Linked DNA regions of Homo sapiens: regions 1 and 2 are each linked to region 3. The links come from fine-mapping of genetic effects on gene expression. A gene starts in region 3. Each other region holds a variant in brackets. All regions are shown on one strand. Distances are from middle to middle.

Region 1 (2,682 bases), 67 kb before region 3:
TATGTAGTATCAAAGTATCTCCTCCAAAATATTTATTAAATACAAGGGAAACATAGCAGTTTTACAAGTACTTGTCTAACACTGAAACCCAAGTGATTAATGTTTAACATCAACAAAAATAAGGCAAACCAATATCATGTGCCCCTAATATGATGCTCTGGAAGAACCCAACATTACTACTGTAGCATTCTACAGAAATGTAGTATTCTGTAACAATCTATAGAAAAATGTGTAACCTGAATCTAATCATAGGGGAATATCAGACAAACCCAAATTAGGGGATATTCTACAAAATAATTGACCTATAGTCTTCAAAATTGTAAGCCAAAAAAAAAAAGAGAATAATTTCAAACTAAAGGAGACCAAAGGACATGACATATGATCTTTGATTACAATGTTGACCAGATTTTTCTTTAAAAACATTATTAGAACAATTGAGAAAAAAATATAGTCTTTAAATTAGATAATATTACTGAATCATTGTTAATTTCTTGATTCTTGTATCAAACTGTAGACATGTAAGAGAATGATTTTTTTCTTAGGGATTATGCGCAGAAGTATTTGGAGCAGAGAGAATCATGGCTGTTAACTACACATTTTTTTTTGAACAATTACAGAAATTTGTTTTTATGAACAATTTTTTTCTAAACAGTTTTTTATTATCTACATATATATCAAAATGTTATCAAATATCAATAATTGGAGAATCTGCGTGAAGAATAAATGTGAAATTATTTCAAATATAACATTAGACAAGAAAAGTTTGGCTGTCCTTTTATTCAAGGCAGAGGAAATCTACTGTAGAGCTAAGGAAGCTTCAGCGTCAGAGCCCCACATTGACTTGAATCTCTTAATAAGGTTCTGGAAAGGACTCTAGTGTTGATATGGAGTGTTAGTCCTAGGGTTGCTGTAATAAATTACCAGAAACATGATGATTTAAAACAACAGAAATTTCTTCCCAGTTCAGGGGGCCAGAGGTCCGAGATCAAGAAGTCACAGAGCTGCACTCTCCCTGGAGGCTCTAGGGGAGAACACTGCCTTGCCTCTTCTGGCTTCTGGTGGCGGTAGGCATTCCTTATGTCTGTGTCACTTCGTCTTCAGATGGCCTTCTCTGAGTCTATGTCCTCTCTCATAAGGATGTTTATCTTCTCTCATAAAGACGCCTGCCTTCTCTTTTCTTAAAAGGATGCTTGTCAGTGGACTCAGGGTCCACCTCGGCAATTCAGAATGGTTTCCTCTTAAGATCCTTAACTAAATTGCATCTGCAAAGACTCTACCCAAATAAGGTCACATTTATGGGACTGGGGGCCAGGACATAGGCATATCTTTTGGGGGGCCACCTTTCAACCCACCACCACATGTGGTTTTATGATTTTTGTAAAATTTGCAATGAAATGTTTTCACTTGGTTAAAACCTCTTTCTTTCCACTTCA[G/A]CATTCTCTCTGTTACACTTATCCTTTGGTTGGGTGGCTTTGGAGTTCTGAGCAAGTTGAGGATCTGATGGGAATTCGAGTAAGACATACCTTTTATGTGAATCTAGGAAGATATATTTATGTAGTTTGTAGGGCTGGCTTCTAGGAATACTTTCGTGCCTGCTGTACTGACTCACACTGTTCTGACACAAAGGTGCAGGGTCATACCCATACCATCCTATAGATGTGTGCTATAGCAATGAGCACTGGAAGTAGATGGATCAAACAGAGGGGTCAGGGGCAGGGGAGGTTTGAGGGACACATTTTAAATAGATGAAACAAGAAGTATGTGGAAACTTCTTACAATTATGTGATGTATAAAATTATGAGCAGGCTGGTTGTGGTGGCTCACACCTGTAATCCCAGCAATTTGGGAGGTAGAGGTAAGCAGATCACTTGAGCCCAGGAGTTCAGGACCAGCTTGGGCAATATGGCAAAACCCGGTTTCTACTAAAATTACAGAAAAATTCGCCAGATGTGGTGACATGCATCTGTGGTCCCAACTACTTGGGAGGCTGAGGTGGGAGGATCACCTGAGCCCAGGAAGTCGAGGCTGCAGCGATCCGTGGATCGTGCCACTGCACTCCAGCCTGAGTGACAGGAGTGAGACCCTGCCTCAAAAAACAAAAAAGCAAAAGATTCGGTTCTCATCAATGCCTTGTCAAAAATAGTCTCCCTTATTAGCAATATACTTGCTGGTGAAATATGTAGAATTATAAATGCATAATGTATACTTTTTTCAATATGGAGATTCAGCAAAATTATATTGATCAGAATTCTTATTTGTGAGTCACCAAAGTTTTGTAGTACTATAAGCAATTAATGTAACTGTGAAGTCACACATCTTATGTTTTCAAATATATTAGATTGTATCTTAGCCTGTTTGCTGTAAAATGAACTGAAGAAGTCTGGCTGTTACAACCAAAATATGTAAATTGCTACTGACTCAGTGAAATGACCTGAAGAAATACTAGTTCAGTAAAAAAACTCTTATCAACGTCCATCAATAAGCCAATGTGTGTAGTATTAATTTACACAATTATATACCTCAGTACAGTACTGTCAGTTTAAAAATGGCTTTTTCTTTAATTTCACCTTAGTTTTCTTCTTTCCTTTTTTTTTTTTTTGAGTCAGTGAGACAGGGTCTCACCCTGTCACCCAAGCTGGAGTGCAGTGGCGTGATCATGGCTCACTGCAGCCACAATCTCCT
Region 2 (2,682 bases), 24 kb before region 3:
AGATAGATCTATCACTTGAATGACCTTGAAATTTATGATCAAAATAGACAAAACTCCAAAAGAGTTCAGATTACAATCCAAAATGCATTTAATATTAGGAAGAGTTGTATGATTTGATTAAAGTGAGAAAAGGTAGGATTGCCTTACACTCAAATGTCTTTACCCCTAGGTGTGAATACATCTACTTATCTTAAGAACTAAGGAAAACAAAATCCAATTAAGAGATATGGCCACCTAGGTGGAAGTTATAGATTCTAACCTGACTTGAAAATTAGATAATAATGTAACTCATTTTTAATGGATATGAGCCACATGAAATGTTTCTCTTTCATTTTTGAAGTCCTATTAACAGTGTGTTATAATTTATAGGAGCTGATACGTTCCATCCATATCAGAGACAGGATCCAGTCTCATTGCTCAACTATCCTCTGATCATTGAAAAGCTGAGAAGGCAGCTCCAAAAATTATGTAGGGATATAACCCCCAAAATGTTGTGAGATGGTATGTTTCCTTTGTGGAAAAGCATTTTTTATATCTGGGGAGACTTAGAATTAATAGTAGATATGTTTAAGGCAACCACAATGTGATATTACTATTTTTACATTAATTAACATGCATGTATTTGCTATAATAAGCATCCATAATGATTAAAGACTTTGTTAGAATAACAGATCAAGCTTGTAACACCATTTTAAAATGTCTAATTGAGAGTTGATTTAGAAATGTGTATGTAGACTGAATACAATTAAGTATAAATGTGATATTTGATTATTTAAGGAAAATTAAAAGAAACCATTTAAAAGTTTTATTTATTAATTTTATAAGTATTACTTAATACTTGAGAAAGTTTATTAGATAAATGTAAGTATGTGTAGAAAGAAATTGAGTATATAAAGGTATTAATGTAGTTTAAAATGTTAAAATGAGTTTAATTAACAAGGTTTATAACTGGTTCTAGATAGTTACTAAGGGCTTCCTTTAAAGAGATTGAAAATTTGCTAGCTTTGTAAATGGAGTAATAAGGCTTTTAAAATGAACTGAAAACCATAAAAAGAAGTAATCATTTTAAATTATGACATGAATAAATTGAATAAAGAAACTAACATAATCTGTTAATAATTTTTTACGACATAAAAATTAGTCTGGTAGAAACAAAACTCTCATTTAATAGGAATCACTTTTAGCATACAGACAAATCAAGTTTCTGATGTTAAAAAATTGAGGTAGGTTTCTATATCAGACCA[C/T]GGGAATTCATCAAGATAATGCTAACCCAGGATGACTGGGGAGGCAGACAACTGACCTTTAACATACCACATTCTAATAGCATTATTAGCAATTCCTTCCATTTTAGAATTAATATAATTTGTGGCCGGGTGCGGTGGCTCACACCTATAACCCCAGCACTTTGGGAGGCTGAGGCTGGTGGATCCTCTGAAGTTGGGAGTTCAAGACAAGCCTGACCAACATGGAGAAACCCTGTCTCTACTAAAAATGCAAAATTAGCCGAGCGTGGTGGCACATGCCTGTAATCCCAGCTATTTGGGAGATTGAGAAAGGAGAATCGCTTGAATCCCGGAGGCGGAGGTTGCGGTGAGTGAGATCGCGCCACTGCACTCTAGCCTGGGCAACAAGAGCGAAACTCTGTCTCAAAAACAAAAAAATTAATATAACTTGTTTATTGCCTCATTAAAATACATTATCTTTTTAATAACTGAATATTTAAAAATACAACATATCATCAAGATTAAAGCACACAAATCCCAGCACTTCGGGAGGCCGAGGCGGGTGGATCACGAGGTCAGGAGATCAAGACCACAGTGAAACCCCGTCTCTACTAAAAATACAAAAAATTAGCTGGGCGCAGTGGCAGGCGCCTGTAGTCCCAGCTACTCGGGAGGCTGAGGCAGGAGAATGGCGTGAACCCAGAAAGCGGAGCTTGCAGTGAGCCAAGATCGCGCCACTGCACTCCAGCCTCGGCTACAGAGGGAGACTCCGTCTCAAAAAAAAAAAAAAAAAAAAAAAGATTAAAGCACACACTTTAAGTGATAATCATAGGTTCTTATGATAAGCAAGTCAGTTCTACTAATAATGAAGACAGGATTGTAACTTTAATAATGTAATTTACTTAATGATTTTTTCATGAGTTTGCACTTCAAAATGGCTTTTGTCCCTTCTCCAGAATTTATTGTGATGACTGAATAGATCACTAGTTATCAGTGACAAGGGGGTTGGGGAACCAGAGAGACTTTGGTTTGAATCCCAATTCAACCTTGTACTAGATCTGAGAACTTGGGCAAGATATGTAACCTCTTACTTTTCTAATTGGGGATGATAATACTTATACTATAGGGTTGTGGTGAAGCTTAGAAGTATTATATGAAAAGAATTGTTACATAATGACCTATAAATAATAGATGTGATTCTTAATGGTAGTGTGAAAATAAGGTTGTTTGTGTTGTTAGGTGAGAAAGGGTTAGTTTCTGCAGAAGGGTCAGCATGGGTGTGTGGATGAAAGACTAGCTGCCTTGACAACATGCTGCTGCAGTGAATCATGGCTGGCAGCCAAATGGAGGCTCCAAAGACCCTTCTGCAAAGTTAGCCAATGGTCTACATAATGTAAATAATACCCTGCCAGAACTCTAAGTCATAGAGTTGGAGTTCTGGCCTCATGCAATCTCCCAG
Region 3 (2,682 bases):
CTTCTAGGAGTAGAAGAGGATCTCTGCTTTGACACATGGGAATTGTTGGCACTCTTTTTCTCAGTTTTAATAGCAGTCATGGACTCCTTTCAATGCGGGGATGTTTATACCTCTCCGGGGAATGTATGGCACCAACAGCATTTGGATGGCTGGTTGTTTCAGCAGTCCTTTGCTTAAAATAGGCATGCACCCTAATTTGAGAAGAAACTGGCAGAGGATAAAAGTGGGTTTCTTTGCTCTTCCCCAGTATTCTAGAAGCTGCTTCATTATCAGAGTTGGAGTCATCTGATGGATAACTGGACATGTTTCTTGGTGTTTTTTTTGTGTATGGCTATACTTCTTTATACTCTTTTGGGTTGCTGTCTTACATACTGCTTAGTGACTTGCTTACCAATAATTTTCCTAGCCTAACCCAGGACAACCATGTTGTCTTTTGGTCTTGACTTTTCCATATGAGACTGCATGTCTTATTGTCACTCCAGTCATGCAGCAACTAACTCTAGACAGGCAGTCATGGACATAGGATTCCATTTTTTTTTTTTTTTTTTTTTCTGCAAGGAAATCCAAGGACTCCAGTTATTAGGTCAAAGATGTTGCTCGTATTCCAGGTAATTCATATTTGCTGGTGAAGTTTTATTTGCCATGCAGTGCCCACAAAAGTAATCCTAGAAATGAGCAGTACTGTGAGGCATAGCACAACACATCCACATTTTATGTGGAGGATATGATCCAGTGGCATTTTATTTAGTGTGAAACTTCTGTCTTCTAAAAGGGAAGATTCTTTTGGAAGGATGGTCTCCTGCTGTGTAATACTTCATGAATTTCTAGTTTAAAAAAATTAGATTTTCCAAAGATCCACTACTATGTACACATTTCAAAATAAATCACCCAGTTAACTCAAAACAATCTTATCGTGAGAAATTTTGGAAAGCTTGAGTTACTTCTAAGAGTTAAAAATGTTCTTTCCTCCTCTTCTGCATGTCAGACTGCACATGATTACTCTGATGTTTCCGTAAATGCTATTAGTGCACTATGAAAGTGGGAAAGAACTTAAAAAAAAAAAAATCCGGGAGGGCAACAAAGCAATAAGAAGGATCATAGGGCACCATGTTAATAACAAATCACAGGAGGTGGCTCCATAAAGGTTGTGAAAACTAGTTTCTCATTGCAGGAATTGGGTTGGGCCACCCCTTCACCCCCCTTCTCAAACACAAATATTATCATATAATAAAAGCCTGCTTCTCTATGCTTATAACCCAGCCTCCATTCCTTCGACGCCACCATTTTAAAGGGATTTACTGCACGGACTTCTCCCAAGTTCCTAGGCATTATCTTCTGGACCCTATCCTGCAGAGGTGAAGCGTCCCTTTGGGGACTCTCGCTGGGTGAGAGGGACAAGAAACACCCACTAGGACCCAACCCCGGCAGCCAGCGGCTCGAGCATGCGCTGAGAGTTTGTGCAGCTGGCCCTGGCTGCCGCCGCTGCCTCGTCCGGACTCGGAGAGGACTTGGGAGGGACAGCGGCGCTGGGAGGTGGCTTAGCAGAGACTTTCCAGCAACTGCTGCCCAGGACTTTTTTTTTTTTTTTTCTTTTTCCCAGGAGGCGGCGACGGCGGCGGCGGGGGGAGAGGAAGAGAAAGAAGCGTCTCCAGCTGAAGCCAATGCAGCCCTCCGGCTCTCCGCGAAGAAGTTCCCTGCCCCGATGAGCCCCCGCCGTGCGTCCCCGACTATCCCCAGGCGGGCGTGGGGCACCGGGCCCAGCGCCGACGGTAAGTGGCCACGCGTCTGTCGCCTTTCCTGCCCGCTGTCCCGCCAGCCCGCCGGCGGCTGCCCTCCGCGCTGTGTGCTAAACTACTTAAGGGCTGGCTCTGGGGCTCCCTGCCGCCGGCGCTTCCCCTCGCGCCCTGCCGGGGGCGCGCGGACGCGATGGCTGGGTCGGTGGCCGCGCTCGCTTTGTGCTCCGCGGGCGGCTTTGAGCGAGGGGTCGCGGGAGCGTCCCGGGCGGGGGAAGCGGGGTTTGAATGACTAACCCGGCGTCTGCACAGCTGCATCGGCCCTAATTCCCCGGCGCCCCCCGCCCCCCGCCCACTGTCCCAGGCTAATCCATCATTCTGGGGCCGAAAACATCATTTCTCACGTTCTCCCAGAGAAACCCTAGTAGCCGGGCGGAATCTCAACTCCGCGCTGCCCCCTCGCCCCCGCCCCCGCCCCCGCCCCGCCGCCCCAGTCCCTTGCATTCACACCCGAGCTGCGGGACGGGGTAGAGGGGTGCGGAGTTGGAGTGCCCAGGAACTGTCCTAACTAGAAGGGCGCTCATTCTCTCGGGCTTGCCGGTGGCGCCTCTGACGTGTCCGGGGTAGGGGGCAGTGTGGTTTCTCACCTTCAGGACAGTGCCGAGCACAGCTGTCCTCGAGGAGGGGCGTGGAGTGAGGGAGGTTTTCAAGAGCGTCTCATCAGAATGCACAGGGCTCCGCCGCGTGTCCCCTGAGAACGCGAGTTTACTGTGCGACTTCATTCATCCGGATAGTTGCTCTTTTCTTTTCCCAGCAGGTGTTATCTGAAGCCGGTTTGGAACTTTTGGGAGTTTAGTTACCATTATGATTTTAACAAATGATTTTTGATGAGGCGATGTCTCGAATGCACTGGGCCTCGGGACCCTCTGGACCCTGCTGAGGGCGGGTG

Which allele goes with the higher level. Positions count from the first base shown, and alleles are read on the strand shown. Sizes are in standard deviations (SD) of each study's normalised expression. Not every link is listed here.
With allele G in place of A in region 1, the expression in coronary artery of the gene that starts at base 1,445 in region 3 is lower (moderate effect, 0.48 SD a copy in GTEx).

Evidence for each region. PIP is the estimated chance that this variant, and not a neighbour inherited with it, causes the effect. A credible set is the group of variants that fine-mapping cannot tell apart.
Region 1: its variant is the best candidate, but not a certain one, in a credible set for the expression of TSPAN12 in coronary artery (GTEx, PIP 0.80).
Region 2: its variant is the best candidate, but not a certain one, in a credible set for the expression of TSPAN12 in nasal epithelium (TOPMed, PIP 0.67).

What each region holds. Positions count from the first base shown.
Region 1 is chr7:120,923,962-120,926,643 of GRCh38, reverse strand. No RefSeq gene overlaps it. Among named protein-coding and RNA genes, the nearest start is that of ING3, 25 kb to the left of the region's middle. The variant G/A (reference allele first, on the strand shown) is at 1,434.
Region 2 is chr7:120,880,928-120,883,609 of GRCh38, reverse strand. The region is part of intron 1 of LOC124901733 (a long non-coding RNA gene); the gene reads right to left. Among named protein-coding and RNA genes, the nearest start is that of TSPAN12, 24 kb to the right of the region's middle. The variant C/T (reference allele first, on the strand shown) is at 1,245.
Region 3 is chr7:120,856,907-120,859,588 of GRCh38, reverse strand. It overlaps TSPAN12 (tetraspanin 12), which reads left to right and starts at 1,445. Exons shown (of 8, transcript NM_012338.4): 1 at 1,445-1,769. It overlaps LOC124901733 (a long non-coding RNA gene), which reads right to left. Exons shown (of 2, transcript XR_007060491.1): 1 at 2,381-2,682. RefSeq lists silencers at 1,791-2,090, 2,283-2,502.